3 separate regions of the Homo sapiens genome follow, and all the other regions are linked to region 1. Evidence: fine-mapped expression QTL. A gene starts in region 1. Each other region holds a variant in brackets. All regions are shown on one strand. Distances are from middle to middle.

Evidence for each region. PIP is the estimated chance that this variant, and not a neighbour inherited with it, causes the effect.
Region 2: its variant is fine-mapped to the expression of PAIP2 in whole blood (INTERVAL, PIP above 0.99).
Region 3: its variant is fine-mapped to the expression of PAIP2 in whole blood (INTERVAL, PIP above 0.99).

The regions. Positions count from the first base shown.
Region 1 is chr5:139,335,697-139,346,745 of GRCh38, reverse strand. PAIP2 (poly(A) binding protein interacting protein 2) reads right to left here and starts at 4,892. Exons shown (of 4, transcript NM_016480.5): 1 at 4,766-4,892.
Region 2 is chr5:139,030,841-139,041,889 of GRCh38, reverse strand. The region is part of intron 5 of SIL1 (SIL1 nucleotide exchange factor); the gene reads left to right. It also overlaps the pseudogene RPL12P21. Among named protein-coding and RNA genes, the nearest start is that of LRRTM2, 160 kb to the right of the region's middle. The variant C/T (reference allele first, on the strand shown) is at 4,644.
Region 3 is chr5:139,211,263-139,222,311 of GRCh38, reverse strand. It overlaps the pseudogene RNU6-572P. Among named protein-coding and RNA genes, the nearest start is that of SIL1, 18 kb to the right of the region's middle. The variant T/C (reference allele first, on the strand shown) is at 5,021.

The DNA of each region.
Region 1 (11,049 bases):
CCATCCTGGCCAACTTGGGCGAAACCCCGTCTCTAAAAATGCAAAAATTAGCTGGACATGGAGGTGCACGCTTGTAGTCCCAGCTACTCGGGAGGCTGAGGCAGGAGAATTGCTTGAACCTGGGAGGCAGAGGTTGCAGTGAGCTGAGATGGTGCCACTGCATTCCAACCTGAGCATCAGAGGGAGACTGCATCTCAAAAAATAAAAATAGGCCAGGTGCGGTGGCTCACGCCTGTAATCCCAACACTTTGGGAGGCCAAGGGGGTGGATCATGAGGTCAAGAGATTGAGACCATCCTGGCCAACATGGTGAAACCCCGTCTCTAAAAATACAAACATTAGCTGGGCGTGGTGGCACATGCTTGTAGTCCCAGCTACTGGGGAGGCTGAGGCAGGAGAATCACTGGAACCTGGGAGGCGGAGGTTGCAGTGAGCCAAGATTGCGCCACTGCACTCCGGCCTGGTGACAGAGCAAATCTCCGTCTCAAAAAAATAAATAAAAATTTAAAAATCCTGTTCTAGACGACAGCTTAAGATGTTTTAACAAATTCATATATTTCACCAGATTTTGGATAGGTAAGAGCAATTTTTTCCCAGTACTACTGCCTGGAAGTCAGCAAACCCTTTCAATTTATCAACTTAGGGCTTTATTGTGTCTTCAGCTGTTTTTCCCCTCCTGAAATGCCTCTTAGACATATTGGTTTCCAGCAGTGTCCTTTTATATTGTCTATGGAATTTTAAAATACAGAAATCTTTTAGGTTTTACAATCTTTCTCCACTAGTTTCATCTTTTAAGAATTCTCATTAAAATTCAAATATAGGCCTGGTGCGGTGGCTCACGCCTGTAATCCCAGCACTTTGGGAGGCCGAGGTGGGCGGATCACAAGGTCAGGAGATTGAGACCATCCTGGCTAACACGGTGAAACCCCATCTCTCCTAAAAATACAAAAAATTAGCCAGGCATGGTGGCAAGCGTCTGTAGTCCCAGCTACTCAGGAGGCTGAGGCAAGAGAATGGCATGAACCCGGGAGGTGGAGCTTGCAGTGAAATGAGATCATGCCACTGCACTCAGGCCTGGGCAACAGAGCAAGACTCCGTTTCAAAAAAAAAAAAAAAAAAATTCAAGCATAGTTCTCTTCTGTTTCTTTCATTAATCTACCTCCATAGGCACCATCTTTTCTCATTCCCTTGGACTCTGTTTTGAACCACTGTGATCCTTACCTTATTTGCATATTTTTTAATCGTATTTTACGCATATATACGTTTAAGCATACTTCCTTTGGCAGTTAAAGAGGATCGCAACATTTTTCAATTGGTCTGTTTTCCACTCTGAAGTCTGTGAAAAGCACCGAATTTTTTGTTTTACTATTTGGCACAGTAAGGTAACGATTAAAAAACATGGGCTCTGGGCTGGGCGCGGTGGCTCACACCTGTAATCCCAGCACTTTGGGAGGCCAAGGCCGTTGGATCACGAGGTCAGGAGATCGAGACCATCCTGGCTAACACGGTGAAACCCCGTCTCTATTAAAAATACAAAAACAAAAGTAGCCAGGTGTGGTGTCGGGTGCAGCTACTCAGGAGGCTGAGGCAGAAGAATGGCATGAACCCTGGAGGTGGAGCGTGCAGTGAGCCGAGATCGCGCCACTGCACTCCAGCCTGGGCAACAGAGCAAGACTCCGTTTCAAAAACAACAACAACAACAACAACAACAAAAACCCATGGGCTCTGGAACCAGGCTGCTTTACTAACTGTGTGACCATGGCAAGTTACTTAACCTGAGTCTCGGTTTCCTCATCTGTTGCATGGGAATTAATAATAGTACCTAGTTAGAGAACCTAGCACATAACAATTGGCATTAACTATCTCGGTGATTAAATATTTAGGGCAGTTAAAGGTCTCTAGACCAAGGGACAAGGTAAAAATTAGAGATCTTAAATCTACAGAGGTGAAACAATGTCACAAGAAAATCCCAAAGTCTACCCTAATCTCAACTGTAGTGTAACAAGGGTAATTAGGTGAGAGCAAGAATGGGTCATCCTAACTGATAAAAGCTCAAGTACATTAGAAATGCCACCCAAATTTATACAAACTGATATAAGAAGCAGAGGCTATTCAAATTCTCCAAACGTGTGCCCATCCAATATGGTGGCCATCGGCTACACAGATCTATTTAATTAAAATTTAGTTCTTCATTTACACTAGCCACATCTCAAGTGCTCATAACCACACACAGTACCTACATCATTGGACAGCACCACTCTAAACAATGAAAAAATTAAGAAAAAAGGGAGTTTTTTGGAACTGAACCTTAGCCTATATCAAATGCAAACTATTCATGCACCTGTGCAACAGGTGGTCTAGATCACAAAGGCAATGACTTGGACAACTTTAATCTTAGACCACAGTCAGAAGACGTAGGTTCAAATCCCAGCTATGCTACATAGCCACCTTAAAGTACCCTAGACCTGTCACTAAATCACACAGCACCACATAATGGTTAAGAGCATAGAATCTCTGGACTATCTGGATTTGAATTCCGACTATCATAGCTCTGTGACATTGGGAAAGTTACTTCACGTCTCATTTGTTATCTTCATTTTACAGTAGGGCCTACCTTCTAGCTATGTTGTGGATCAAATTAGTTAATATTTGTAAAGGCAATGAGAACAATGCCTGGCATTATTGTTATATAAATATTTGCTAAATAAAAATAATCTTTCAGGCTTCTATTTCTTTAATTCCCAAATGGGCAAGATAAAACTTGCTCTGTTGGGAGGCCGACGGGGGCGGATCACAAAGTCAGGAGATCGAGACCATCCTGGCTAACACGGTGAAACCCTGTCTCTACTAAAAATACAAAAAATTAGCCGGCGTGGTGGCAAGCGCCTGTAGTCCCAGCTACTAGGGAGGCGGAGGCAGGAGAATCGCTTGAACCCGGGGAGGCGGAGGTTGCAGTGAGCCAATTGCGCCACTGCACTCCAGCACTCCAGCCTGGCGACAGAGTGAGACTCCATCTCAAAAAAAAAAAAAAAAAAAAACTTGCTCTGCCCATTTCACGTTTCATGATAATGAATGACAATAGGATGTAAATTACAAGAAAATGTTTTAAAAGCACAAAAGGTTATTAGATTACAAGGGGGCAGAGGTCTTGCCTTCCACATTCTTTAATCTCCCACAGTATCAACCAAATTGCTGTGCTAAGTGTTCAAGTTTTTCACTAAAACTGGAGCATCACACTCTAGAGTCATAAAGTGATAAACCTGAATAAAGTGCAGAGTGCTTATTTAAGGAAAAGCCTGCTATAAACTCATTCTGACCAAAAGAGGGTGAAATTACCTACCTCAATTTGAGTTCCTAAGGAGCAACGTGCACAGCCTTGAATCATTAGAGGAAATCTCCATTCCCTAACCTCCATCCCTTAAAGAAACACAAGTGGGTTCTATAGTTCTTGTCAAGTTACCTATCCTGTGATTTTGTGTGTGTGTGAAAAAGTTTTATTCAAGTTCACAACTGACAAGTAGTATAAACAGACTAATTTTCCCCAAATATCCTGTCTTTCACTAACTGGAAACAGAATCACAAAAGCAAATAGTGGAGTCTCATTAAAAATTATTGTAGAGAACTTTTACTTATTGCAAACACAACCTACGCCAGAAGAAATTTCAAAAGCGACTTAATGAAAATATAAACCAACACCTGATCTAACTGTGCTAATGAAATCTGTGAAAAAACAATGCCACCACGTTTCAACATTAGCCAGCACACCCAACATGAACATCTACTTTCCGTTGAAATAAACGTCAAAGGCTGTCAGCTGCTACACCTTCCAAGGCAAATTGGAAGCCAAATTCTTTCTAGAGTTTGGGGTTTTTATGAGTTGATACGGGTGCCAAATCAGGGAAAAAAGAAACAAAAGGAAGCAGGTAAGACCCCTTTTAGGAGTCCCTAAAAAATATCACTGCTGGCTGCTGCAACAAATGTTTTGAAGACCTAAGTTCACCACAAGCCTTATTTATTTCTGGTGGCGATGGTGGGGAAGGAGGAGAGTAAGCACAGAAAATTATTAAAAGGTAAGAGGACCTTAAAGTTCATCTAACTCAACGCCCTCCTAGGGTAAGGGTTCCCAGTACCCCAAAGGTTCTTTTTTCCAGGGCATGAGCTGCAATACAACCAAAAATAAGGGGTAGCGATGGCGAAGAAACGGGAGAAAGACGATCTTCTGATCAGGCCCGTCGACGGTTGCAGCGTTCCCCCAAGACGCCAAGAGCCCGCCAGTCCCTCCGCCCCTCTCTCCCCAAACCCCAGCCTCGGCTGAGGCGCGCACGCGCAGCAAGTAGGGGCTGCGCGTGGCGACGCGCAGGCGTAAAGTGGGTAGAAACAATAAGCTTTGTTGCCGAGGCGGTGGGAGGGGGGCAGGGGAAAGGGTACCCGGCGGAGGGATAAAGGACCGGGAGAATGAGGAACAGGAGAAAGTGCTATCCCGGCAACCCTCGCGCCACTGAGGACCCGGATAGAGAGCTGCGAGATCCAAATCATTAATAATGACAATGAAAAAAAAGCGACGGCCATGTCTCGGAGAAGACAGAGACGAAGTCGGCCCAAGCTCATCCCTCAGACTTGGTGGAAAGAGGCAATGAACAACGGAGGCCGCAATGGACTCGGTGGCCAACCACCCAGGGAACCCTTTAGGCCCCTCTGCCGTCGCCGACTTGCTGTCCCTCGACCTCCGCACCCCTGTCGCCACTCTGCCCGAGAGGACCCCTCACCCAATGCACAGCAGCGGGGACGGCAGCCAACGAATCCTGTCGGCCTCCGCGGATCTCCACAGGCAGCGCCGCTCCCCCGCTCGACGTGCGCTTCGCCCGCCGCCTCCCTTCTCCAGTCCAAACAAACACCCCAGCCCGGAAGTGACTTCACTTCCGTCGCCGCCAACCCCGCCCTCTTGTTCTGTCAGCTCTGCCCTCCGAAGCCACTAGAGAGCGCGCGCGAGAACGCGCGACCCCGAAGTCTGTCTCCAAGGCTGCACACGTGTGCACGCGCAGCAGCCTTTCCAGCGCGCCCCTACGGCCGGCTGCCGGGTGTAGCAGGAACGCTGTCGCACGTTCTCTCTGGAAGGCAGGAATGGGGGCGTACCACTGTTCCCACACCCGCCCATCTTCCGAGAATGATGATATGCAATGAGTGAGGCAGCTGGGGACTGAAGAGCACCCTGACAAGATACACAGGCGTGGACTTTCACAGACATCACACACCCCCCCAAAAACGTAATATTTAGGTAATGACATAGCACACACATACCCATACACACCCCAAGAATGATACACAATGTCACACAAACAGCGACATGCACCGAGTCACGTCAAGATCCTGACACAGAAAAATAATAAACTAAGGGAAATCACAGAGGCGTACTAAATGATATGCAAACATCCGCACTCAGACATGTGCAGGCACAAAAACACACTTTTTGAAGCTGGATGCAAACGCAAAATACAAATACATGTGCAACTTCTTTGTGGCTAAAGGAGGAAATGCCCTGTCCACACAGGATAGAAAAGTGTGACCTCCGGGTTCAAGAATTTTGTAGTCCGTGATCCTGGGTGCACTGGCCCCATAGTTATTCTTACCCATGCTTCCTTCCTGTCATCGTTGACAAGCCCCAAGATATATTTCTAGTGACACTAAGCAATGTAAAGAAGAGAGTATGTTTTTGTTTTTTTGTTTTGTTTTGTTTTTTTGAGGCGGAGTCTGGCTCTCTTGCCCAGGCTGGAGTGCAGTGGCGCCATCTCGGCTCACTGCAACCTCCGCCTCCCGGGTTCAAGAGATTCTCCTGCCACAGCCTCCCAAGTAGCTGGGACTACAGGCGCACGCCAGCACACCCGGCCAATTTTTGTACTTTTAGTAGAGATAGGGGTTTCACCGTGTTGGCCAGGATGGTCTCGATCTCCTGACCTCGTGATCCACCCGCCTCCGCCTCTCAAAGTGCTAGGATTACAGGTGTGAGCCACCGCACCCGGCCGAGAGTATGTGTTTTACAAATCTGGATGTTCAAATGTGTAGATACTATCTTTGAAAAAGGGACACAAACTAATTTCTTCCCTTTGGAGAGGGCAAATGACCGACTAGGAAATGGGTGCAAATAACTATCCTTTTCTCCTGAAAAATTTGAATCTTTTAAAAACTATATGCTTGTAGTATTTACTAAGACAAAAAATTCCCTCCATGGGAAGGCTTGAATTTAGAAACCGGGTTGTTCCTCTTCAGAGCTATTTCATTCACTGAATACTCTTCTGGGCCAGTCCAAAGCCCCAAAGAAATGAATGCAGATGGTTCTGCCCTAGCTCCTGGGTCAACCACCTTGGCAGCACTTACAGATCTATATTCTAAACTGTGAAGATAAGCTATCAATCTGAGGCTGAAGGAAGTCTGAACATAACAAAATAGGTATTTATATAGTCTGAGATGACTCAGACTCTCTTTTTAAGACACAGTCTTCCATCACCCAGGCTGGAGTGCAGTGGCATGATCACGGTTCACTACAGCCGCAACCTCCCTGGCTCAAGCAATCCTCAAACCTCAGCTTGCAAAGTAGCTGAGACCACAGGTGTGTACCACCATGCCTGGCTAATTTTTGAATTTTTTGTAGAAATGAGGTTTTGCCATATTGCCCAGGCTGGTCTTGAACTCCTGGGCTCAAATGATCTGCCCGCTTCAGCTTCCCAAGGTGCTGGGATTACAGCCGTGAGCCACAGGGCCTGGCCTAACCCAGACTCTCTTAAAAGGTAAGCATGAGGCCAGGTGCGGTGGCTCACACCTGTAATCCCAGCACTTTGGGAGGCTGAGGCGGGCAGATCATGAGGTCAGGAGTTTGAGACCAGCCTGGCCAACATGGTGAAACCCTATCTCTAATAAAAATACAAAAATTAGCCGGATGTGGTGGCACATGCCTGTAGTCTCAGCTACCCGCGAGGCTGAGGCAGGAGAATCGCTTGAACCCGGGAGGAGGAGGTTGCGGTGAGCCCAGAGCATGCCATTGCATTCCAGCCTGGGTGACAGAGTGAGACTCTGTCTTAAAACAAACAAATAAACAAAAAGGTAAACATGAGATAATTGAATTTGTTATTTAGTAACACAAGCCACTTAACTGGTTATAATGGTAATAAAAAATATTTGATAAATCATGTGAAACACTCAAAGGCCAATGCTGTTTTTCCCACACAAAGGGGTTAAGATCTCAATTTCCAGATCGCACTGAGAGTTCACCACAGTGGCTAAGCGTCAGGGGCCCAGTATTTCCTTGGCATTCTCTAGACATAAGGACACTCTGCTCACATGCAAAATAAACTTCAATGTAGCAATATTATACTTGGATAGTGATGGTGATGATCTATACATGGAAAACAAAATAATGAAGGCTAACAAGTTTGCTAATGGTAAGGAGAGACACTGCAATGGGACCAACAGAGAGATCCAGTTTTAAAACACTGCAAAAATTTACCTATCTGGTTCACATAGTAACCATCTTAAGATGGAGGTTGAAGTAGAAATCAGAAGGCCCAGGATGGCTATGAGTAGGCCCCCACTGTAAATTACCACCTTCCTACAGACCCCTCATTTCTCATCAATAATGTAAAAAGTATGTACCTTCTTACCCAAACATTCCAAATATAGGAATCTACCCAAATGGACAGATGTAAAGAGAGACATGTAAGAATATTTATAGCCTGGTTATAAAACCCAAAAGATCAAAATGCCTATCAACAGGAAATTGGTTAAATGAATAATGATGCATTAAAATAGTTATTTAAAATATGTATATTCATTGATATAGAATATATCAATGCTTTTTAAAAGAGCAGGTTGCAAAACAGCATGTTTGTAAAATCTTTCAAAATTTTATATGTAAACAGGCACGAGTAGGTATAAATGCCAAGTATCTGATAGAATGGTCATCAAAATGTTAATAGCAGTATTTCTGGGTGGTCAGATTTCTTTTTTTTTTTTTTTTTTTTTTTTTTTTTTTGAGATGGAGTCTCGCTCTGTAGGCCAGGCTGGAGTGCAGTGGCACGATCTCGGCTCACTGCAATCTCTGCTTCCCAGGTCCCAGTTCAAGTGATTCTCCTGCCTCAGCCTCCCAAGTAGCTGAGACTGCAGGCGCGCACCACCATGCCCAGCTAATTTTTGTATTTTTAGTAGAGACGGGGTTTCACCATGTTGGCAAGGCTTGAACTCCTGACCTCGTGATCCGCCTGCCTCGGCCCCCCAAGGTGCTGGGATTACATGCGTGAGCCACCGTGCCCGGCCTTCCTGGTGGTCAGATTTCAAAGGAGTCAATATTTTCTGAATTTTAAAAATATTGTCTAAATTCTCTAGGAAAGCTTGAATTGCATATTGCATTTATAAACAAGAAAACACACCCCCCCAAAATGAACTCTTACATAGGTTCCTATAGTGCTTCAGTAATGGTTCCTATGCTCCTTTGTATCAAGGTAGGCAGAGAATGTAGCTAGCTAGCGTAGGTATGTAGGGTTGAGTAAGGGCCTAACACTGCAGGGTAAGCAAAGGTCCCTGCTCTGAATGAGAAGGTGAGGGGATCAAGTATTATTCAACTTTTAAAATGCCTACTTATGCCTGCACTGATCTAGGCACTAAGGATACACAGACAGTAAGTGGTGGGTTTTCCTAAAAAAGTTGTTTAGTGAAGTTTAAAACTCACCTGGCCTTAAAGAGCCAAACTTGGCCAGGCGCGGTGGCTCACGCTTGTAATCTCAGCACTTTGGGAGGCCGAGGCAGGTGGATCACGAGGTCAAGAGATTGAGACCATCCTGGCTAATACAGTGAAACCCAGTTTCTACTAAAAATACAAAAAATTAGCCAGGTGTGGTGGCATGCACCTGTTACCTTAGCTACTCAGGAGGCTGAGGCAGGAGAATCGCTTGAATCTAGGAGGCAGAGGTTGCAGTGAGCTGAGATCTCGCCACTGCACTCCAGCCTGGGTGACAGAGCAAGACTCCGTCTCAAAAAAAAAAAAAAAAGTAAAATATTCTTCGGGTGGGCGCGGTGGCTCATGCCTGTAATCCCAGCACTTTGGGAGGCCGAGGTGGGTGGATCACGAGGTCAGAAGATCGAGACCATCCTGGCTAATACAGTGAAACCCAGTTTCTACTAAAAATACAAAAAATTAGCCGGGCGTGGTGGCGGGCGCCTGTAGTCCCAGATACTCGGGAGGCTGAGGCAGGAGAATGGCGTGAACCCGGGAGGCGGAGCTTGCAGTGAGCCGAGATCGCGCCACTGCACTCCAACCTGGGCGACAGAGAAAGACTCCGTCTCAAAAAAAAAAAAAAAAAAAAAAAAAAAAGAGCCAAACTTGTGTAGTTTGAATATGCAGCATGAGCAGGATTTGGAAAATGTGTAGGTGTAGAATAGGTAAACGTTTTTGCAGAATCATCATGTGTGCCTACAGACGTGCTGAATAACTGGAAAGGCAGAAGCAATTCCTCTTTTCCAGCTGGGAAAACCGTTCCCTGCTGACTTTGTGCAGCTCAGCCTTTTTTTTTTTTTTTTTGAGACGGAGTCTTTTTTTTACGCCCGTCTAATTTTTTTGTATTTTTAGTAGAGACGGGGTTTCACCATGTTAGCCAGGAGCAGCTCAGCTTTTTTTGTTGTTGTTTCCATGTTCTCCCCATGTTCACCTCTCTAGAAGCTTGCCTTTTAAAATAACATGGGCCAGAGATACACTTGGAGTTTCAGCAGAAGCAGCCAAAATCAGGAAAATGAACTAGGAGTTATCATGAAAGTCTCACTATCCTTCACACCAATCATCACTTAAACTGCAGTCCCTTTCCACAGGCTATCACACCATAAAGCAGGTTTCCCTATTCAAATAGGGCATAGGCTGGGTTCTGTGGCTCACACCTATAATCCCAGCACTTTGGGAGGCCGAGGCAGAAGGAATGCTTGAGGCCAGGAGTTCAAAACCAGCCTGGGAAACTTACCAAAACTCTGTGTTCAGAAAGAATGTAAAAAAATAGCTAAGTGTGGTGGCACATTCTTATAAGTCCCAGTTACTCGTAGGCTGAGGCAGGAGGCTTGCTTGAGCCCAGGAGTTCAAGGCTGCCATGAGCTACTAGTGTGCCACTGCACCCCAACCTGGTAAGGCGGTGACGCTGTCTCTAAAAAAAAAGGTGGGGGTGGGCCAGGTACACTGGCTCGCGCCTGTAATCCTAGCACTTTGGGAGGCCGAGGTGGGCGAATCACTTGTCAGTTTGAGACCAGCCTGGCCAACATGATGAGACCCCTGTCTCTTCTAAAAGTACAAAAATAAAAATTAGCCAGGTGTGGTTGCACACCTGTAGTCACAGCTACTGGGGAGGCTGAGGCAGGAGAGTCACTCAAAACTGGGAGGCGGAGGTTGCAGTGGGCTATCACGGCATTGCACCCCAGCCTGGGTGTCAGAGCGAGAACCCCTCTCAAAAACAAACTAAAAACAAAACCACCACCAACAAACTAGGGTTTATGCAAGTGTAGGAAAAAAAGTAAAAAGTGCCAGGCATGATGACTTATGCCTATAATCCCAGCGCATTGGGAGGCCAAGGTAGGGGCATCTCTTGAGCCCATGGATTTGAGACCAGCCTGAGCAACATAGCAAGACCGCATCTTCTACACACAGACACACACACACCCCCTACAAAAATTAGCTGGGCATGGCAGTGCATGGCTGTAGCCCTAGCTACTTGAGAGGTGGAGGTAGGTGAATCACTTGAGTCCAGGAGTTCGAGGCTGCAGTGAACTATGATTGTGTCATTCATTGCCAGACCCCATCTCAAAGAAAAAAAAAAAAAAAGGCAGGAAGTCAATATAAGTAGAGTTGGTAGTTACGAAAGTAGCTGGGATCTAATTGCTCTGTGATGTTTCGAATTTTCCTATTATGTACGAAAACAAACTCTTCCATTTAAATCTCAAAAGCCAAATGGCCAATGAGAAGCCGCTACTTCTGATTTAACAACCCTGTCAAAGTTGAGCCAACTGAAATTGGTCCTGTTTTTGATAG
Region 2 (11,049 bases), 300 kb after region 1:
AGAGACCTAAGTTCTCCCTCCCTCTTCTCCTTACAGTCCCCATTTGCTTTTTTTTGTTTTTTTTTTTTTTTGTTTTTGAGTTGGAGTCTTGCTCTGTCGCCCAGATGGCCTTGTTGTTTGTGCGGTGGTACGATCTTGGCTCACTGCAAGGTCCACCTCCTGGGTTCAAGCGATTCTCCTGCCTCAGCCTCCTGAGTAGCTGGGATTACAGGTGCTTGCCACTACACTCAGCTAATTTTTATGTTTTCAGTAGAGATGGGGTTTCACCATGTTGGCCAGGTTGCTCTCGAACTCCTGACCTCAAATGATCTGCCCACCTTGGCCTCCCAAAGTGCTAGGATTACAGGCATGAACCACCGTGCTGGGCACTCATTTGCCTTTATTTACCTCTTCACTCCTTCCCCTGAATCCAGGTAATGTCCTAGAGAGACAGCATTAGCCTCTTGACAGCTTGTGTATTACTGGAAGAAGCCATAGGTTGTTCTGATCCTTTAGAACTAAATATTTCTGGGAAAATGAACCTTTTTGGGGGATAGGAAACTGGTGTTTACCTGTTTAAGAAGTGTGAAATGCAGGCTCAGTCTCCACGTCTTTACTCATCTTACCAAAGTCACTTCTCCTACACGGAGAGTGTATGTGGTGTGGGAGGGCACGTGGCTTGGTGGCAGCAGCAGTGGGTGAAGGAAGGCAATGCTCGCAATTGTGTCCTACCACAGATGTATTAGCCAAGGGGCTGAGGAGAAGCACATCTTCTGCCTGGTACAGGTGAGGCCAGCAGAGGAGTGCCTGGGTGCCTAGGACAGGGACTGGCCAGGGCTTTGGCTCCTTCCCACCCACTGTCGGTTCCATGTGGGACTGATGGGAACATTAAACAGCTCCTATTCAGCGTCTTCTCTGTGGATGGAGGACCCACTTAACCTTGTTCTCTTCTCTTTGCTTTCCCTGGGAGTGTGTTTGGCTTTTCTTTTCTCAGGTGATGGCATTTCCCCCCACCCCAGTAATTCAATTAGTGTAGAAAAGTATGAATATTTATAAAAGTATTTCAAAATGTATAACCAAGAGATTACTTAAAAGTTTTAGTTGCTGGTTTTTGTAATTAAAAATACTCCTCTCGGCTGGGTGCAGCACTTTGGGAGGACAAGGCGGGTGGATCATCTGAGGTCAGGAGTTTGAGACTAGCCTGGCCAACATGGTGAAACCCCGTCTCTACTGAAAATGCAAAAATTAGCCGGGCATGATGGTATGTGTCTGTAGTCCCAGATAGTCCAGAGGCTGAGGTGGGAGAATCACTTGAAACCGGGAGGTGGAGGTTGCAGTGAGCCTAGATTGCACCATTGCACTCCAGCCTGGGTGACAAGAGAGAAACTCTGTCTCAAAAAAAAAAAAAAAAAGAAAAAAGAAAAAAGAAAAAATACTCCTCTCCCCTTGCAAGGGGATCCCAATATCAGCACCCAAATGCAAGACCCAAGCTCCAGCTCATTTGCACCAGCTGCACACCTCTGAGGTCTGGCTATCATACTCTTTCCTTACTTATGTGGAACTTAGGTTGTTAGCACCATCACTGAGGTGCTAAGTCCTGGCATCCTTCTCCTGCTTTTCATTTGGAGCCTATCTGGACTGACTCAGCTCACTGCCAATGTGCTCATCGAGCTGGCACTGGGATTGGCAAATAAATGGATTTGAAATTGGTTGGGGAGTTTCTTACATATATCAAGCTTTTGGCTACAGATATCATCCTATTTTTGTTTATTAATCTTTAAACCTAGCCTATGTGGTGTCTTGTTAGTACAGGATGGTGCTTTTGTGATTTATATAGACAATACTGTCAGATATTCGGCCATATCCTCTTAATTAAATGAGTGGGTTTTTGGGAACTGGATGTTTTTGGGGACGAGAACATCAATTATATTGTATCCATCGGTAGCTTGGTAGGTTTAAGTGAATCAGTCTTTCCCGGAGTTCCTTGGTTCTTGGAAAAGCTGTCTCTCCCAGCAGATTTGGTTGTTATGGTTGAATCTCGTCTACTTATCCCTCTATTTCCATACAAATTGCTTGATGCTTTTATGTTTTATTATGTCTGCTATTGTTCACCTGTATTCTACAAATTATTGTTTTTTAAGATATGGCCTTTTTAAGCTTTTGATTCTTGGCAAGATGTAATAGACTTATTTCTCCCTATTCCCCCAGCTAAGGGTAACTAAAAACCCTGGACATAATACTAAAGGCAAATGTAGGAAGACTCTAAAACACAGTCAGAAGGCAGCAGACTGGCTAGGGACCTTGGAGCTTGGGGAATGACATCAGTGAGTTCCTTGGATTTTCTTTTTGTCCTCTATATATTTTAGACTGAGTGTTGGCAAATCCCACATCCTGAAAATGTCAACTGGTGCAGATTTTAAAAAGTTATAAGAAAAGCCTGCTATTTCTAGACAAAGAATTGAGCAAAGGGCATCCTAACAGGATAGAAACCTTATTTACAATACCTGTCCAACTCCTGCCAAAGATAATGAAAATCTCCCCACCCCACTTAGTGCCAGTGCAGTGGACATTGAGGTGGGGAGTCTGGATTTCTGCCTGCTATTTGGTGGTAGTAGCAAGCTGTACTCTGATTCCTCCACCAGGGTCGCCAGGAGCCAAGTGGACGGCCTGAACTCACGTCTGCTCCTGGCAGCAAAAAGTGGTAGAAGGCAGTAAAAAGTGGTAGAAGGCAGTGTTCTGCTTCCTCCACCAAGATGGTGTCAGTGGGAGCTGAGCAGAGAGCTTGACTTTTCATCCTCTGCCCAATGGATACTCTCTGCTTCCCCTGCTGGTGTATTACCAACAGACCAAGTGTGCACCCTGATTTTCCATCTCCCATCTGACAGTAGCAGGCTGTTTATCCTGCTGGAGTGGTGTCAGCAGAGGCTAAGCAGGGAACTTGAATATCTGTCCTCTGCCTGGTAGCACCAACATGGTTTTTTACTTTTCCCTGATAACATGGTGTCTGTTGGGGTGAATGAAGAGTCTGTACTTCCACCCCCAACTTGGAGGCAGTGAGACAGTGTGAGGCAGCATTCTGCTTCCCTCTCTGGGGCGGGGCCAGTGGAATAAGTGAGAAGTATGAACTTCCACCCTCAGGCCAGCAGCAGTGAAACAGTGCTCGATTCTCCCGCCAAAGTGGTGTCAGTAGAGGCCCAGGGAGGAACCTAGACTTCCACTCCCAGTGGCCAGCATCCAGTGGTGGCAGGTGAAGTTGTTTCCCTTCTCAACTAGAGAGTAGGGGTACGATTTGGGAGAGAGGAGAGCTAGAGAAAGGGATTTTGCATATGAAGTCCTAGACATACCCGTTCAGTGACCCATACAAGAAACTGACCAGAATTAATACAACAAAAAGTTTAGGAACTGAACTATAGTGTGGAATGCTGCCCAGGTTTTTAGATTGGCCTCTGGGTAGCACACAAAGGAAGCAGACCAGAATAGCACTACAATGCTCTGAAAACTAAATTGTTGTTGGAGCCACAACCCACACAAGTAAGCCAGAACCAGTATACTAAGCCTAAATAGGATGTCTACCTACTGAAAAAGATGAAGTAGGATCTGGAATTTCATAACTTAATACCCAAAATGTCTAGGATATAATTAAAAATTACTTTTCATACCAAGAACCAGGACAATCACAACTTGAATTAGACAATCAACAGATGCTGTTATGGATTGAATGTTTGTGTCTCCCCCAAATTTATAAGTTGAAGCCCTAACCCTGCAATGTGATGTTTGGAGGTGGGACCTTTGGAAGGTAATTAGATTTAGGTGAGGTCATGAGGGTTAGGCTCAAGAGGGATTAATGTCCTTAGAAGAATAAGAGAGACCAGTACTCTCTCTCTCTACCGTGTGAAGACACAGCTAGAAGGTGATTATCTGTAAGCCAGAAAGGGGACCCTCACCAGGAACCACGTCGACTCATTCCTTGATCTTGGACTTCCCCAGCATCCAGAATTGTGAGAAATAAATGTATGTTGTTTAAGCTGCCCAGTATATGATATTTTGTTATAGCAGCCTGAGAAGACTGAGACAGATGCTAATACTGAAATGACTCAGAAGTTGAAATCATCTAACAAGAATTTTAAAACAACTATTATAAAATTGCTTCAGCAAGCAATTATGAGCACCCTTGAAGCAAAGTCTCAGCAAGGAAACAGAAGATAAGAAAAAAGAACCAAATGGAATTATAGAACTGAACAATATAATAACTAAAACTTTAAAAGTCACCAGATAGGCTCAGTAGCAGAACAGAGATGACAGAGAAAAGAATCAGTAAACTTAAAGACAGATAAATAAAAATTACACAGTCTGAACAACAAAGAGAAGATAGATTGGAGAAAAAAAATAACAGAGCTTTAGGGACCTGTGGAACTGTAACAAAAGATCTAACATTTGTGTCATTGGAATTCCAGATGGAGAGTAGAAAGAATATGGGGCTAGAAAATAATCAAGAAACAAGGGCTAACAAATTCCCAAATGTGGTGAAAGGCATAAACTCACAGATTCATAAAGTGAATCCAGTGAATCCAGGTGAACTCCAGACAGGATAAACTCAAAGAAATCAACACCAAGATACATCACAGTTAAACTTCTGAAAACTAAAGACAGAAAAATCTTCAAAG[C/T]AACTAGAAAAAATAACACAACTATAGGGGAACAATGATTGAGCGATATTGAATTTTTTATCTGAAACCATAGAGGCCAGAAGTATGTGGAATATTTTTCAATTGCTGGGGGAAAAAATGAACTGTCCACACAGAATTTTATAGCCGTGAATATATTTCAGGAGTGAAAGGGAAGTCAAGACACTTTTAGAGAGAGGAAAATTAAGAAAATTTCTCACCAGCAGACCTACTCTGAAAGAATGACTAAAGGATATTCTCCAAATAGAATGAAAAAAGAATAATAGAAAGAAACTTGAAATATCAGGAATAAAGAAAGAACAATGTAATGAATAAAAAATAGGGAAAATGCAGCCTATCCTTTTCTTCTTGAGTTTTTATTATTTATTTTCTAATTTTTAACTTTTAAGTTCAGGGGTACATGTTCAGGTTTGTTATATAGATAAACTTGTGTCATAGGGGTTTGTTGTATAGATTATTTCATCACCCAGGTATTAAGCCCAAGTACCCAACAGTTATTTTTCCTGATCCCCTCCCTATTCCCATCCTCCACCCAATAGGCCCCAGTGTGTGTTGTTCCCCTCTAAGTATCCGTGTGTTATCATCATTTAACTCCCACTTATAAGAGAGAACATGTGGTATTTGGTTTTCTGTTCCTGCATTAGTTTGTTAAGAATAATGGCCTCCAGCTCCATCCATGTTTCTTGAAGGGATAGATCTCATTCTTTTTTATGGCTGCGTAGTATTCCATGGTCTTTGCCCAGTCTATCTTTGATGGGCATTTAGGTTGATTCCATGTGTTTGCTATTTTGACAAATCTGACAAAAACAAGCAATGGGGAAAGGATTCCCTATTCAATAAATGTTGCTGGGATAACTGGCTAGCCATACACGGAATATTGAAACTGGACCCTTTCCTTATACCATATACAAAAATGAACTCAAGATGGATTAAAGACTTAACCTAAAACTATGAAAACCCTGGAAGACAACTTAGGCAATACCATTCAGGACATAGGCATGGGCAAAGATTTCATGACGAAGATGCCAAAACCAATTGCAACAAAAGCAAAAATTAACAAATGGGATCTAATTAAACTAAAGAGCTTTTGCACAGCAAAAGAAACTATCAATAAACAACCTACAGAATGGGAGAAAATTTTTGCAAACTATGCATCCAACAAAGGTCTGATATCCAGCATCTGTAAGAAACTTGAACAAATTTACAAGAAAAAAACAACCCCATTACAAACTGGGCAAACTGCTGAAGTTTGACCCCAGCGACATCAAAGTTGTATGCCTGGCCGGGCGTGGTGGCTCTCGCCTGTAATCCCAGCACTTTGGGAGGCCAAGGCGGGTGGATCACGGGTCAGAAGATAGAGACCATTCTGGCTAACATGGTGAAACCCCGTCTCTACTAAAAATACAAAAAAAATTAGCCGGGCGTGGCGGTTGGCGCCTGTAGTCCCAGCTACTCAGGAGGCTGAGGCAGGAGAATGGCGTGAACCTGGGAGGCGGAGCTTGCAGTGAGCCAAGATCACGCCGCTGCACTCCAGCCTGGCGACTGAGCAGGAGTCCATCTCAAAAAAAAAAAAAAAAAAAAAAAAAGTTGTATACCTGAGATGCACGGAGGGTGAAATGGGCGCCATGTCTGTGCTGGCACAGGTATCATTGCTGGTATCTGGCACTGGCCCCCAAGATTGGCCCCCTGGGTCTGTCTCCGAAAAAGGTTGGTGATGACATTGCCAAGGCAGCCGGTGACTGGAGGGGTCTGAGGATTACAGTGAAACTGGCCATTCAGAACAGACAGGCCCTGATTGAGGCAGTGCCTTCTGCCTCTGCCCTGATCGTCAAAGCCCTCAAGGAACTGCCAAGGGACAGAAAGAAATGGAAAAACATCAAACACAGTGGAAATATCACTTGTGATGAGATTGTCAACATTACTTGACAGATGCGGCACCAATCTTTAGCCAGAGAACTCTCTAGAACCATTAAAGAGATCCTGGGGACTGCTCAGTTTGTGGGCTGCAGTGTTGATGGCCGTCACCTCATGACATCATAGATGACATCAACAGTGGTGCAGTGGAATGCCCAGCTAGTTAAGCACAAAGGAAAATATTTCAATAAAGGTTCATTTGACAACTAAAAGAAAAGTGGGCAAAGGACATAGACACTTTTCAAAAGAAGACATACATGTGGGCAACAATCATATGAAAAAAAGCTCAACATCACTGATCATTAGAGAAAAGCAAATCAAAACCACAGTGAGATACCATCTCACACCAACTATAATGGCTATTGTTAAAAAGTCAAAAAATAATAGATGCTGGCAAGGGTTGTAGAGAAAAAGGAATGCTTATACACTGTTGGTGGGAGTGTAAATTAATTCCACATTGTGGAAAACAGTGTGGCAATTCCTCAAAGACCTAAAGACAGAAATAGCATTTGACCCAGCAATCCCATTACTGGGTATATACCTAAAGGAATAGAAATTGTTCTGTTATAAAGACACACATGCATATGTTTTTGAGTTTTTAAAATTGTTTGATAGTTGAAGCAAAAATTATGACAAGATCTGTTTCTGAATGTATAGTGAGGAATTTTGAAGACAATTAGGAGGAAGAAAGGATTAAACATAATTGGAGGTAAGGTTTCTACATTTCACTCAAAGTGATAAAACATTGATACCAGTAGATTATGATGTTACTTATGTATATTATAATACTTAGAACAATCATTATTAAAAACTATACAAACAGTTACACTCAAAAGCATAGGTAATCCAAAAAGGAATTATATAAAATGTACCTTGGTTTGTCACAGGAAGGTGAGAAATGGGAAACAGGAACAAAAACTGGAGGAAACAAAAAAAATAAATAAAATGGTGTATTTAAGCTCTAACATATAAAAATATTACCTTAAAACATAAATGTATAATAATTGTAAAATGTTTTATAATTGGTCTAAATATACCAATTAAACAGATTTTCATAATGAATTTTAAATGAATTTCAAAAATATGCTTTCTACAAGAAATTCAAATATAATGATAAAGACAGTAGGTTGAAAGTAAAAGAATGGAAAGCATATCATACAGATATTAATTAAAAAGCAGGAGTTACTATATTAATATCAAAGTTGACTTTAGATTAAAGGAAATTATTAGGAACAAGAGCAATTTACATAATGATAAAAGGGCCAGTCCATTAAAATATACAGTAATTCTAAATGTGTATGTACCACTTTTATTTGTATATAAAAATACCTGAAGCAAAAACTAACAGAACTAAAAGAAAGAAACAGACAAATCCGCAATTACAGTTGGGGATTTCAACATCCCTTTCTCAGAATTGCTAGAACTACTAGACAGCGGATCAGTAAGGGTATTAAAGAGCTGAATAACACCTTCAACCAGAAAAATTTAATTGACATTTATGGAACATTCCATTCTACAACAGCAGAATATACATTCTTTTTAAGTGTCCATGAAACACTCCTCAAAATAGAGTATATCCTGAGTAATCAAACAGATCTCAACAGTTTTAAAAGAACTGAAATTAGGCAGAGTATGTTCTCTCATTATAATGGAATCAAACTAGAAACCAGTCATAGATAGGAAGAAAATCTCCAGTCAAGTCAAAGAGGAAATCTCAGGGGAGGTTAAAAAAAAAAGATACATTGAACTGATTAAAAATGAAAATGCACTTTATCAAAATTTGCAGGATCCAACTAAAGCTGGAAGGGAAATTTGCTTATATTAGAGAAGAAGTAAGGTCTCATACCTATAATGGAAGGTCCTACTTCAAGAAACTAGGAAAAGATGATCGAAACAAGCTCAAAGCAAGCAGAAGGAAGGAAATAAAGAGCAGAAATCAATGAAATTGAAAACATGAAAACAGTAGAGAAAAATCAGTGAAACCAAAAGGTGATAAACTTCTATCAAGACTGACAAACATGGCTGGGCACGGTGGCTCACGCCTATAATCCCAGCACTTTGGGAGGCTGAGGTGGGCAGATCACCTGAGGTCAGGAGTTCGAGACCAGTCTGGCTAATATGGTGAAACCCCTTCTCTACTAAAAGTAAAAAAAATGAGCCAGGCATGGTGGCGCACGCTTGTAGTCCGAGCTACTCGGGAGACTGAGGCAGGAGAATCACTTGAGCCCAGGAAACAGAGGCTGCAGTGAGCCAAGATTGCACCACTGCACTCCAGTCTGAGCAACAGAACGAGACTCTGTTTCAAAAACAAAAAACAAAACAAAAACAAAAACAAAAAATCCACAAGACTGACAAACACATAAAGCACTAAGATAAAAATTACCTGTATCAAGAATGAAACCAGGAATATCATTACAGATCCTGCAGAAATTAAAAGGAAAATACAGTAAGAGAATACTATGAACAACTCTATGCATATAAATTTGATAACTTTCATGAAATAGTCCAGCTGTTTTATAAGCACATATTATCCAAATTTACCCAATATGAAATAATACGAGTAGTCCTATAACCATTAAAAAAACTTGAATTTGTAGTGAAAAACCTTCTATAAAGGAAGTCTCCAGGTTCAGATAGTTTCACTGGAGATATTAACCAAACATTTAAAAACCACTGGCGTCAATTCTACACAGTTTGTTCCAGAAAATGTAAGAGGGAGGAACACTTCCCAACTTACTTTATGAGGCCAGTGTCACACTAATACCTGAACCAGACAGAGTACAAAATAAACTACATAGCAACATTCCTCACGAACATGGAAACAAAAATCCTCACCAAAATTTAGCCAATCAAATCCAGCAATATGTAAAAAGAATTATGCATTATATATAATCACATGGAGTTTATTACCAGAATGCAAGGCTGGTTCAGTGTACAAAAAATAATCAGTATAACCCAACATATCAGTAGGCTAAAGAAGAAAAATCACATCATCTTATGTCAGTTAATACACAAAGAGCATTTGACCATATTCAGTACCCATTCATGATAACTCAGAAATCTAGGAATAGAAACCTTACTTGATAACAAGCATTTACAAAAAGTCTGCATGGAATATTATACTTAACAGTGAAAGACTGAATACTTTGCCACTGAGGTCAGAAACAAGCCAAGGATGTTCACTCTTACCACTCATTCAACACAGTCATAGCCAATGCAGTAAGGCAAGGCAAGGAAAAAATAAAACTATCTCATTTTCCAGATGACACAGTTGTCCATGTATAACTCCCAAAGAGCCTCCAAAAAAAAGTCTTCTAGAATTAATAAGTGAGTTCAGCAATGTCACAAGATATACAGACAATGCAAATCAATTGTATTTCTATATACTAACAAAGAATATTTGGAAATTGAAATTAAAAACATATGTACCATTTACAGTTGCTCCCCTAAAAATGAAATATTTAGGAATAAATCTAACAAGACAGATATAAGATCTATATGCTCAAAAGTATAAAAGTTGGGTGAAAGATGATGATGGAGTTAAATCAAAGAAGACTTAATTAAATGGAGTGACACACTGTGTCCATGGATTGAAACATTCAACATAGTAAAAATGTTAACTCTCTCTGAATGTATAAGTTTAGTGCAATTCCTATCAAAATTTCAGCAGGATTTTTTTGTAGATGAGCTTATTCTAAAGTTTGTATGGAAAGTTGAAGGAACTAGAATAGCTAGAATTTTAAAAAGAAGAATAAGTGGAAGAAAACACACCACCTGATTTTAAGGCTTACTCTGTAGCTATAGTAATCAAGACAATGTGGTATTGGTGGAGAGAAAGAATCATAGATCAATGGAACAGAGTAGAGAACCTAGAAATAGACCCACACTAATACAACTGACTGATTTTTGACAGGTGCAAAAGTAGTTCAATGGAAGACAAATAGTCTTTTCAGCAAATAGTGGGCATCCATAAGCAAAAAATGAGCTGTCACTTAAACCTCATACCTTAAAAAAAATTAATTCAAAATAGATCATAGATTTAAATGTAAAATGTGAAACTAAAAAGAAAAAAAAAATCTTCTAGAATGAAACATAGAACATCTTTGGGAACTAGGACCAGGTAAAGAGTTCTTATGACATGGCACCAAATGTAAGATTTATAAAAGAAAAAAATTGATAAATTGGACTTCACCAAAATTAAAAAGTTTTGTTTTGTCAAATACCCTGTTAAGATGATCAGAAGATAAACTACTGGAAGGAAATATTTGCATATCATATACCAGCAGTCCTCATTTTATGTTATGTGGAATTGTGAAAATGTGCACACTGAAACTATGCAAAACAATCTTAACATAATCAAGGGAAAAATTATGATTGTTCCATGATCCTTGAAATGTTTTGCCAGACATTAAAGCAACTACATTGCTATTGGTTATAAGTATATATAGAAATGAAAAAGCAATAGTAATATTTA
Region 3 (11,049 bases), 120 kb after region 1:
CATTCCCAGATTAGAGCAACATCTCAGGGGCACCCCTGCCTTGCCCTGGATCTGTTGCTGAGCCTCCTTTTAACACGAACTGTGGCTTCTACTACCTTCTCTCCTTTAAGCCTGAGTCCCAGTATACAAAGAGGATTAGCTGATTTTCTTACCTTTGAGTCCAGGTGGAGGCATGAAGCACAGAAGTGTGGGGAACAGAACAAGGGACGCTCCAGACAGTATGTTTCTAAACTGCTCTTGGACAAATAGAGTCATTTTCCCTCCATTCTCACTACTACCTCCAGTTCCTTTGCCTCTGGTCATTTTGTCCCTCCTACTCTAATTTCCACAAGAAGATAAGACAAGGTTCGTTTTCTCTGTTTCTGCCTCTTGCCTCCAGGCTACTAGAAAAAACCACGAAACTATGTTCACTAGCTCCAATGTCTGATTTTCAGTTGTGATCAGGCCTTCAATGCTACTTAGTAATCTTTTCTTAAAAATATAGAATGCTTCACAAATTTGCTGTCATCCTTGCTCAGGGACCATGCTAATCTCTCTGTACCTTTCTAATTTTCTTTCTTTCTTTTTTTTTTTGAGACGGAGTCCCGCTCTGTCGCCAGACCAGAGTGCAGTGGTGAGATCTCGGCTCACTGCAACCTTTGCCTCCCAGGCTCAAACGATTCTCCTGCCTCAGCCTCCTGAGTAGCTGGGACTACAGGCGCCCGCCACCACATCCAGCTAATTTTTGTATTTTTAGTAGAGACAGTGTTTCACCATGTTAGCCAGGATGGTCTCGATCTCTTGCCCTCGGGATCTGCCTGCCTCGGCCTCCCAAAGTGTTGGGATTACAGATGTGAGCCACTGTGCCTGGCTTTTTGTTTTGTTTTGTTTTGTTTTTAAGAGACAGGGTCTTGCTCTGTTGCTCAAATGAGTGCAGTGGCACAATCATAGCTCACTGCAGCCTTGAACTCTTGGGCTCAACCAATCCTCTCACCTCAGCCTCCTGAGTAGCTAGGACTACAGTTGTGTGCCACCACACCTGTCTATTTAAAATTTTTTTTGTAGAGTCAGGGCTGGTCTCAGGCTCATGGCCTCAAATGATCCTCCTGCCTCAGACTTCCTAACTGCTGGGATTACAGGCATGAGCCACCACATCTGGCTGGTAATCCTTATAATAGATTGTCCCCTGTGTACAATTTGTTTTGTCCTCCTGTTACGATCATTTGAGGTTGTGTCCAGTTTTAGCTGTTGTAAATAAAGTTGCTATGGGCTGGACAGGGTGGCTCACACCTGTAATCCCTGCACCTTGAGAGGCTGAAGTGGGAGGATTGCTTGAAGCCAGGTGTTTGAGACCAGCATGTGCATCAAAGCAAGACTCCTATCTATATTTTTAAAAAGTTGTTATGGACATTCTCATGCATGTCTTTTTGTGGACATATGTTTTTATTTTTCTTGGGTAAAATATCTAAGAGTGGATTTGCCCTTCATAGGATAGGTGTAAGTTTAGTTTTATAAGAAAGTGAGGCTGGATGCAGTGGCTCACACCTGTAATCCCAGCCCTTTGGGAGGCCGAGGTGGGAGGATCACTTGAGGCCAGGAGTTGGAGACTCAGAGTCTCCATCACAGTGAGACAACAGAGTGAGACTGCCATCTTTACAAAAAAAAAAAAAGTTTTTTTCTTAAATTACCTGAACATGGTTGTGTGTACCTGTAGTCCTAGCTACTCGGGAGGTTAAAGTGGGATAATTGCTTAAACCCAGGAGTTCAAGACAGCAGTAAGCTATGATTGAATCACTACACTGCAGTCCAGGCAACAAAGCAAAACCCTGTCTCAAAAAAAAAAAAAAAAAGTAACAAAAGGCTGGGCATGGTGGCTCATGCCTGTAATCCCAGCACTTTGGGAGGCCAAAACAGGTGGATCACCTGAGGTCAGGAGCTGAAGACCAGCCTGGCCAACATGGTGAAACCCCCTCTCTACTAAAAATAAAAATAAAATAAATAAATAAATAAATAAATAAATAAATAAAAAGCTGGGCATGGTGGCAGGTGCCTGTAATCCCAGCTACTCGGGAGGCTGAGGCAGGAGAATCACTTGAACCTGGGAGGTGGAGATCGTGCCATTGCACTCCAGTCTGGGCAACAAGAGCGAGACTCCATCTAAAAAAAAAATTAAAAAAAAACAAACAAACCCAAAAAACAAAGTCTGGGCACGGTGGCTCATGGCCTGTAATCCCAGCACTTTGGGAGGCCGAGGCAGGGGGATCACGAGGTCAGGATTTTGAGACCAGCCTGGCCAACATAATGAAACCTCGTTTCTACTAAAAATACAACAAAAAAATTAGCTGGGTGTGGTGGCAGGCGCCTGTAGTCCCAGCTACTTGGGAGGCTGAGGCAGGAGAATCGTTTGAACCCGGGAGGCGGAGGTTGCAGTGAGCCGAGACTGCACCATTGCACTCCAGCCTGGGTGACAGAGCGAGATTCTCTGTCTCAAACAAACAAACAAAAAAAAGTGACAATGATTTTCCAAAATGGTGTACTGGTTAAGGCCCTTATTAAAGAGGAAGATCCCTGGGCTCTGTGCTGAATTTACTGAATCAGAATATTATCAGAATAAAGGACATAAAGAAGCTCCCATGTAATTTTTCTTTTTTTTTTTTTTTGACACATGGTCTTGCTCTGTTGCCCAGGCTGGAGTGCAATGGCGCGATCACGGCTCACTGCAGCCTCAACTTCCTGGGCTCAAGTGATCCTTCCATCTCAGCCTCCCAGGTAGCTGGGACCACAGGCACACGCCAACACACCTGGCTAAGTTTTTTAAATTTTTATTTATTTTTTGTAGAGACAGGGTCTCCCTTTTTTGCTCAGGCTGGTCTCGAACCCCTGGATTCAAGCAATCCTCCTGCCTCACCCTCTCAGTGTTAGCATTACAGGCATGTAAACTTATCACCATTGCGCCTAGCCCCATGTGATTTTAATGCAGGTGGTTTTTTGACTGGCATTTAGAAACCACTGGAGAATATCTTAGTATCTTTACTTTCTTGTTTTTCGTTCCTTCCTCAATAACTAATTCTGGCCACCATGTATTGTGGTTGTAAATAATGGAATAATTGACCAACAGTGAATTAAGTAGTAAGGACATTTATTTATCTCATATAACAAGAAACCCAGAGATAGGTGGGTCCAGGTTTGGTTAATTCAGCCATTAGTAATGTCATCAAATAGCCAGGCTTTTCTCATTTTCCTCTTCACTGTCCTCAAAGTATTTGCTCCATTCTTGGGCTTATTTCTCATAGTCCTAAGATGGCTGTCACAGCTCTGAATAGCATGAGCTCACGTGGCAACTCCCAAGGCAGAAAAAAGCAAGGGATGGCCAGCAATGGTGTCTCACGCCTGTAATCCCAGCACAGTTGGGAGACTGAGGCGGGCAGATCACTTGAGGTCAGGAGTTTGAGACCAGCCTGGCCAACATGGTGAAACCCCGTCTCTACTAAAAATACAAAAATTAGCTGGGTATCATGGTGCATGCCTGTAATCCCAGCTACTTGGGAGGCTGAGGCATGAGAATCACTTGAACCTGGGAGGTAGAGGTTGCAGTGAGTCAAGATCATGCCACTGGACTCCAGCCTGGGTGACAGAGGGAGACTCCATCTCAAAAAAAGAAAAAAAAGAAGGAATTAAAGATTTCTCCCTAAGCATATTTATTGCATTAGGGAGGAAAATCCTTTGCAGAATCTTCCAGAAAACTTCCTCCTAAGTTCCATTATCCAGAACTGGGTCACATGTCCACCCCTAGGTTTAAAGGAGGTGGGGGGAGGGGTGTTGGCAAAGTATCTAGCAGTTTTGAGGCCTTATAATGTGAGGCAGTCCCTGCCAGTAAGTGTTGGGAACAGGCCCCCAAATCTGGCCATAAACTGGCCCCCAAACCGGCCATAAACAAAATCTCTGTAGCACTGTGATATGCTCGTGATGGCCATGACACCCACACTGGAAGGTTGTGGGTTTACCAGAATGAGGGCAAGGAACACCTGGCCCACCCAGGACAGAAAACCACTTAAGGTGTTTTTAAACCACAAACAATAGCATGAACGATCTGTGCCTTAAGGACATGTTCCTGCTGCAGATAACTAGCCAGAGCCCATCCCTTTATTTCGGCCCATCCCTTCATTTCCCGTAAGGAATATTTTAGTTAATCTACAATCTACAGAAACAATGCTTATCACTGGATCGCTGTCAATAAATATGTGGGTAAATCTCTGTTTGAGGATCTCAGCTCTGAAGGCTGTGAGACCGCTGGTTTCCCACTCCACACGCTATATTTCTTTTTCTTTTTTTTTTTTTTTTTTTTTGAGATGGAGTCTCGCACTTTCGCCCAGGCTGGAGTGCAGTGGTGTGATCTCAGCTCACTGCAAGCTCCACCTCCTGGGTTCACACCATTCTCCTGCCTCAGCCTCCTGAGTAGCTGGACTACAGGTGCCTGCCACCACGCCTGGCTAATTTTTGTATTTTTAGTAGAGACAGGGTTTCACCATGTTAACCAGGATGGTCTCAATCTCCTGACCTCGTGATCCACCCACCTTGGCCTCCCAAAGTGCTGGGATTACAGGCGTGAGCCACCGTGCCCAGCTCCACACGCTATATTTCTGTGTGTGTGTCTTTAATTCCTCTAGTGCTGCTGGGTTATGGTCTCCACAACCGAGCTGGTCTTGGCAAGTAAGGAAGAAGAGTGGGAAAATGGCTTTTGGGTTGGTAATCGACAGTGTCTCTGGCTGGGCATGGTGGCTCACGCCTGTAATCCCAGCACTTTGGGAGACCAAGGCGGGTGGGTCATGAGGTCAGGAGATTGAGACCATCCTGGCTAACACCATGAAACCCCGTCTCTCCTAAAAAATACAAAAAATTAGCCAGACATGGTGGCGGGCACCCGTAGTCTCAGCTACTCAGGAGGCTGAAGCAGGAGAATGGCATGAACCCAGGAGGCAAGCTTGCAGTGAGCCGAGATCTCCCCACTGCACTCTCCAGCCTGGGCGACAGAGTGAGACTC[T/C]GTCTCAAAAAAAAAAAAAAAAAAAAAAAGAGTGTCTCACATGAGACCTCATCAAAACTGTTCTTAGAAAGTCACATTAATTGCTAGATCCAATGACTTCTCTCCAGTTTTCCTCATACTGGACCTCTCTGTGGAGTTTTATATTGCTGGCTCCTTCTTTCTTGAAACTCTTCTCTTGGTTTCTGCTATACCTTCTACCCCGCTCATCATGTCCTCCCCTTGGGCTTCCCTTCACTACCCTTCTTCTCTTTATGTGTTGGTATCACCCTGGGTTTTGAACCAGACTCTGTCTGGGCACCTCTGAGCATCTAAACCAGGCAATCCATTCTAACCGTGTTTCTTTCTTTTTTTTTTTTTTGAGTTGGAGTCTCACTCTGTTGCCCAGGCTGGAGTGCAGTGGCGTGATCTTGGCTCACTGCAACCTCTGCCTCCCTGTAAGGGAGGAGACCACCCCTCATATTGTCCTATTGTAGAGACAGGGTTTCATCATGTTGGCCAGGCTTGTCTCGAACTCCTGACCTCAAGTGATCCGCCTGCCTCAGTCTCCCAAAGTGCTGGGCTTACAGGCATGAACCACTGCGACTGCCTCAAAGCTGAATTTTCGATTGAAACAATGTATGTTATGAACCCCCCATGACTGTACAAATTTTCACTGAAAACTTCTGAAGCCATCCAGTGTGTGGTGTGACTTGATTTCAGATGGACATCAGTGAAGGGGCCACAGGATTTATGAGGCTGACAGTGTGGACAGTCCCACATCTGAGTCACACCTAGATTATTGAAGCCTTTTACTGGTTTATCTGCCTCTGGCCTTCCACCCCTTCCAATGCTCCCTCCACATGGCTGCAGAGTGATCTAAGATGTAAACCCAGGCTATTTCCCTATTTAAATTGTTTAATGGATCCTTAATTGGTGTTTCTCAAACTTGGAGTTCCTGGATCCCTTGGGGACACATTCTCAGGTGTCTTGAGTAAACTTTAAGAAGTTTACTGGCTGGACACAATGGCTCACGCCTGTAATCCCAACACTTTGGGAGGCCGAGGTGGGAGGATCACTTGAGCCCAGGAGTTTGACACCAGCCTGGGCAACATAGTGAGGCCCTGTTTCTATTTTAAAAAGAAAAGAAAAGAAAAAAATAAGGAGCTTACTATTTGTTTTAATTTCAGGATTAATCTTTTGTTTTGTTTTTTTTTTTGAGACAGGGTCTTGCCCTGTTGCCTAGGCAGGAATGCAGTAGCAGGATCATGGCTCACTGCAGCCTTGACCTCCCCTGCTCAAGTGATCCTCCTGCCTCAGTCTCCAGAGTAGCTGGGACTACAGGCACAGCCACACCTGGCTAATTTTTGTATTTTTTGTAGAGACGTGGTTTTGCCATGTTGCCTAGGCTGGTCTCGAACTTCTGAGCCCAAGTAATCTTCCCACCTTGGCCTCCCAAAGCGCTGGGATTACAGGCTGAGTCACCATGCCCGGCCAGGATTAATCTTAACAAAATAGTAATAACGACATAAGCATAGTCTGTAACACCGGATGACCTTATAACCAAGCACTTTCAGGAAATTTTAGTGCCTTTTTTTTTTTGCACTTGTATTATGTATTGATTGGGTTGGTGCCAAGTGATTTTCTGAAATGACAGCATTTAACTTTTAATGCTGCAACTATTTTCATCTCATTATTTACAGATATATCTGCAGCACCTAGAACAACAGTGCACATCGTAAGTGTTCAATAAAGACATGTTGAATAAATGAATGAATGAAGTTTCTCAAGCTAGGTTCTGACATCCTTGGGGCTCTTCCACAGTTTGAAATCGCCTCAGTATGGCACGTGAGGCTCTTCACAATTAAGCTGGGAATACTCAACCAGTAATTTTCCCAGACAGTCTGGGCAGGATGCGGGGGCGTAGTCCTCTTTAGAAAATAAAAAAAGTGAAAGTATAAAGCATTTATGTACATTTTGACAGGGCAGACGTGATATGCAAATGGATTGCAAATATAATGCAAATGACATGCAACTCCTCATGCAAATGAGCATCCTGTCTTTGGAATCGACTGCCGGGTATTCACTGATTTGTCTGCAGTACTGGCAGTAAATCTTTCAAGGGTTTGGGATGCAAGTTGCTTTGATGGTGATGTGTGTGTACTAGGGAGGAGGGGTAGTGGGATGGGGTCTCTCAAGGAGGAGTCGGTGTGGTGCTAACGCTTGCAGCTTAGTATGAAGCTTAATACAGTATACAGTTTAATATGAGGTTATTCTCCTGTGATGCTCTAAGGACTGACATTTCGGAATTGGTGGCGGGTGGTGGCAATGAAATGCAACTTCTTATATTCTTCAACTCTTTGGTTGCCTCACATCTTCTGTCCCATCCATCTCACATCATTGGGGTTCTGGTCCACAGGAGTAGAGAGTAGGGAGTCAGAGATCCCTAGCCCCAGGCCCTCATCATGAGGACTACAGAAGAGCTCTTGTAAATCATTTCTGGAGGAGGTTATGAGCATGGTGTGGAGTTCTGCACTTCCTAATCACATGACAAGCAGAATTTAGCTGAATTTCTAGGCCTGTTAGAAAAAGATGAGTGGTGACAAAAAGCATGGAGACTTTCTGAGAAATATAGCTGCTTAATCTCAATGCCAATAATGTGATATCTGACAAAATTGGGAAGCTTACTTGGAAATCTAAAGGGAAAAAATGTCAACTATGATTTTTTTCTTGATAAAAACCTGTTCTTCCTTGTCCTTGGTGTGAAAGGAAATTTGTGGTTACACAGACTCTTCCCCAATGATTATAAAAATATTGGGCAAATGATGCAAAAGACGCTTTAGCAGGTATATTTTAGCCTAACTCAAGATCTGTTTTTCTCTGACACTTTGCATCAGACCTGGGTTCAAACACTCAATTTTCAGCTATATAAACTTGGACAACTTATTCAACTTTTCTGAGCTCAGTTTCTGCATCTGTAGGGGAGTAATAGAATAATAGAATCCTTATGAGGCTGTCGTAAAGGTCACATGAGATAATGCATGTACTTAACACAGTGCCGGGCTCATAGTGAGCATTCAATTAATATGGCAATTTGCAATGACCATCTGTAGATTTGCTGCCTAGATTCCATTCATCCTCCATCTGATAACTGTACCCCATTTCTTCCTGGTGAACCATCATTTTCTTTTCATTCCATGTGGTCCTAATGAAACTGACTCCATCCTCAGCATCAGGAGTAGAACATGTGGCGTAAGCTGGGTGCAGTAGCTCACACCTGTAATTCTAGCACTTTGGGAAGCTGGGCCAGGTGGATCACTTGAGGCCAGAAGTTTGAGACTAGCCTGGCCAACATGGCAAAACCCTGTCTCTACTAAATATACAAAAATTAGCTGGGTGTGGTGGTACATGCCTGTAATCCTAGCTACTCAGGTGGCTGAGGCATGAGAATCACTTGAACCTGGGAGGAAGAGGTTGCAGTGAGCCAAGATTGTGCCACTGCACTCCAGCCTGAGCAACAAAGTGAGACCCTGTCTTTAAAAAACAAACAAACAAGGCCGGGCGCGGTGGCTCACGCCTGTAATTCCAGCACGTTGGGAGGCCGAGGCGGGTGGATCACGAGGTCAGGAGATGGAGACCATTCTGGCTAACACGATGAAACCCCGTCTCTACTAAAAATACAAAAAATTAGCCGGGCGCGGTGGCGGGCGCCTGTAGTCCCAGCTACTCGGGAGGCTGAAGCAGGAGAATGGCGTGAACCCGGGAGGCGGAGCTTGCAGTGAGCAGAGATCGCGCCACTGCACTCCAGCCTGGGCGACAGAGCGAGACTCCGGCTCAAAAAAACAAACAAACAAACAAACAAAAAAGAACCTGTGACTTAGGTTTAAATCATTCATACCATTCTATTCTTAGGCCACAGTGATTGGTTCAAGAATGGGGACATACACAGAGTTACCGTACAATCCAGCAATTCCACTTCTAGGTAACCTTGTATGATCAACACTCAGTGTATGCAAAGGATTAGTTCCAGACGCCCAAGTACACCAAAATCCATGCAAACTCAAGTCCTGCAGTTGGCTCTGCAGAGCCTGAGTATACAAAAAGTCAGCCCTCCATATACTCAGGTTTCACATCCTGCGAATACTGTATTTTCAATTTGCATTTGGTAAAAAAAATCTGCATATAAGTGGATCCTTGCAATTCAAACTTGTGTTGTTCAAGGGTCAAGTGTATATGAATGCTCATAGCAGCATTATTCATAATAGTCAAAAAGTGGAAGCAACCCAACTATCTACCACTTGGCATCAGAATGCTGCTATGAACATTCATGTACAACTTTTTTATATTCATACAATGGGCTATTATTCAGCAATAAAAAGGAATAAAGTACTGATTCATGTTACAACATGGATGAACCTTATAAACATTATGCTAAGCGAAAGAGGACAGACACAAAAGGCCATATATTATTTGATTCAATTTATATGAAATATCTAGAATAGGCAAACCTGTGGAGACAGAAAGATTAGTGGTAGCCAGGCACTGGAAGGAGGGGGAATGGGTAGTGGCTGTTACTGAGTATAGGGTTTCTTTTTTTTTTGAGACAGGGTTTGGCTCTGTCGCCCAGGGTGGAGTGCAGTGGCTAACTGCCATTTCTGCCTCCCAGGCTCAAGCACTCCTCCCACTTCAGCCTCTGGAGTAGCTGGGACCATAGGCACTCGCCACCATGTCCAGCTAATTTTTGTATTTTTTATAGGGAAGGGGTTTCTTATGTTGTTCAGGCTGGTCTCAAACTCCTGGGCTCAAGTTGTCTGCCTGCCTTGGCCTCCCAAAATGCTGGGATTACAGGTGTAAGCCACTGTACTTGGCCTAGAGTTTCTCTTTAGGGTGATAGAAATGTTTTGGAATTAGATAGTGGTGATAATCATACAACATTGTGAATATATTAAAAACTACTGAATTGCATACTTTAAAAAGATGAATTTTATGGAATGTGAATTATATCTCAATTTAAAAAACTAAACCAGATAAAATAAAACAGTGGACATATGTCTCAAGTAGACTAATGACAGCCAGTAAGACCCACTCTAATTCTTTGGAGTCATGAGGGAAGCAAACTAGTTCCTTTCTTTCAGGACTCCAACTTGAGAGAATATAGGGTCTGGAGCTGCTGTCCTGTCTTGCTATGTGTAGATCCGGAGACTGAATTATCCAACTCAGCTGAAAGCAGAGCCAAGAAATGGAGACACCAAGACCTGTTTACACATTGGAGCTACAGTAATTAATTGTCCCAGTTTGCCTGGGACTTTCCTGGTTTTAGAACTGAAAGTCTGTATATCACGTTAAGCTGGAGCTCCGAATCCACCTCTGCTTGAAGGTCAACATGTTACCCGTGGACTTTTCAATTACAGTCATGCACCATGTAATGATGTTTTGGTCAATAACGGATCACATATGCGATGGTCATTCCATAAGATTATACTACAATAGTTTCACTGTACCTTTTCTATGTGTAGATATTTTTAATTTTAATTTTTTTTTTTTTGAGACACAGTCTCACTCTGCCACCCAGGCTGGAGTGCAGTGGCGCAATCTCGGCTCACTGCAACATCTCCCTCCCCGGTTCAAGCGATTCTTGTGCCTCAGCCTCCTGAGTAGCTGCAATTACAGGTGTGTGCCACCATGCCTGGCTAATTTTTTTATTTTTGGTTTTTTTTTTTTGAGATGGAGTCTCGCTCTGTCACCCAGACTGGAGTGAAGTGGCGTAATCTCGGCTCACTGCAACCTCCGCCTCCCGGGCTCAGGTGATTTTCCTGTCTCAGCCTCCGAGTAACTGGGATTACAGGCAGGCGCCACCACACCTGGCTAATTTTGTATTTTTAGTAGAGACAGGGTTTCACCATGTTGGCCAGGCTGGTCTTGAGTTCCTGACCTCAGGTGATCCGCCCGCCTTGGTCTCCCAAAGTGCTGGGATTACAGGTGTGAGCCACCGAGCCCGGTCCTCTGTTTAGATATGTTTAGATACGCAAATACTTACCATTGTGTTACAATTG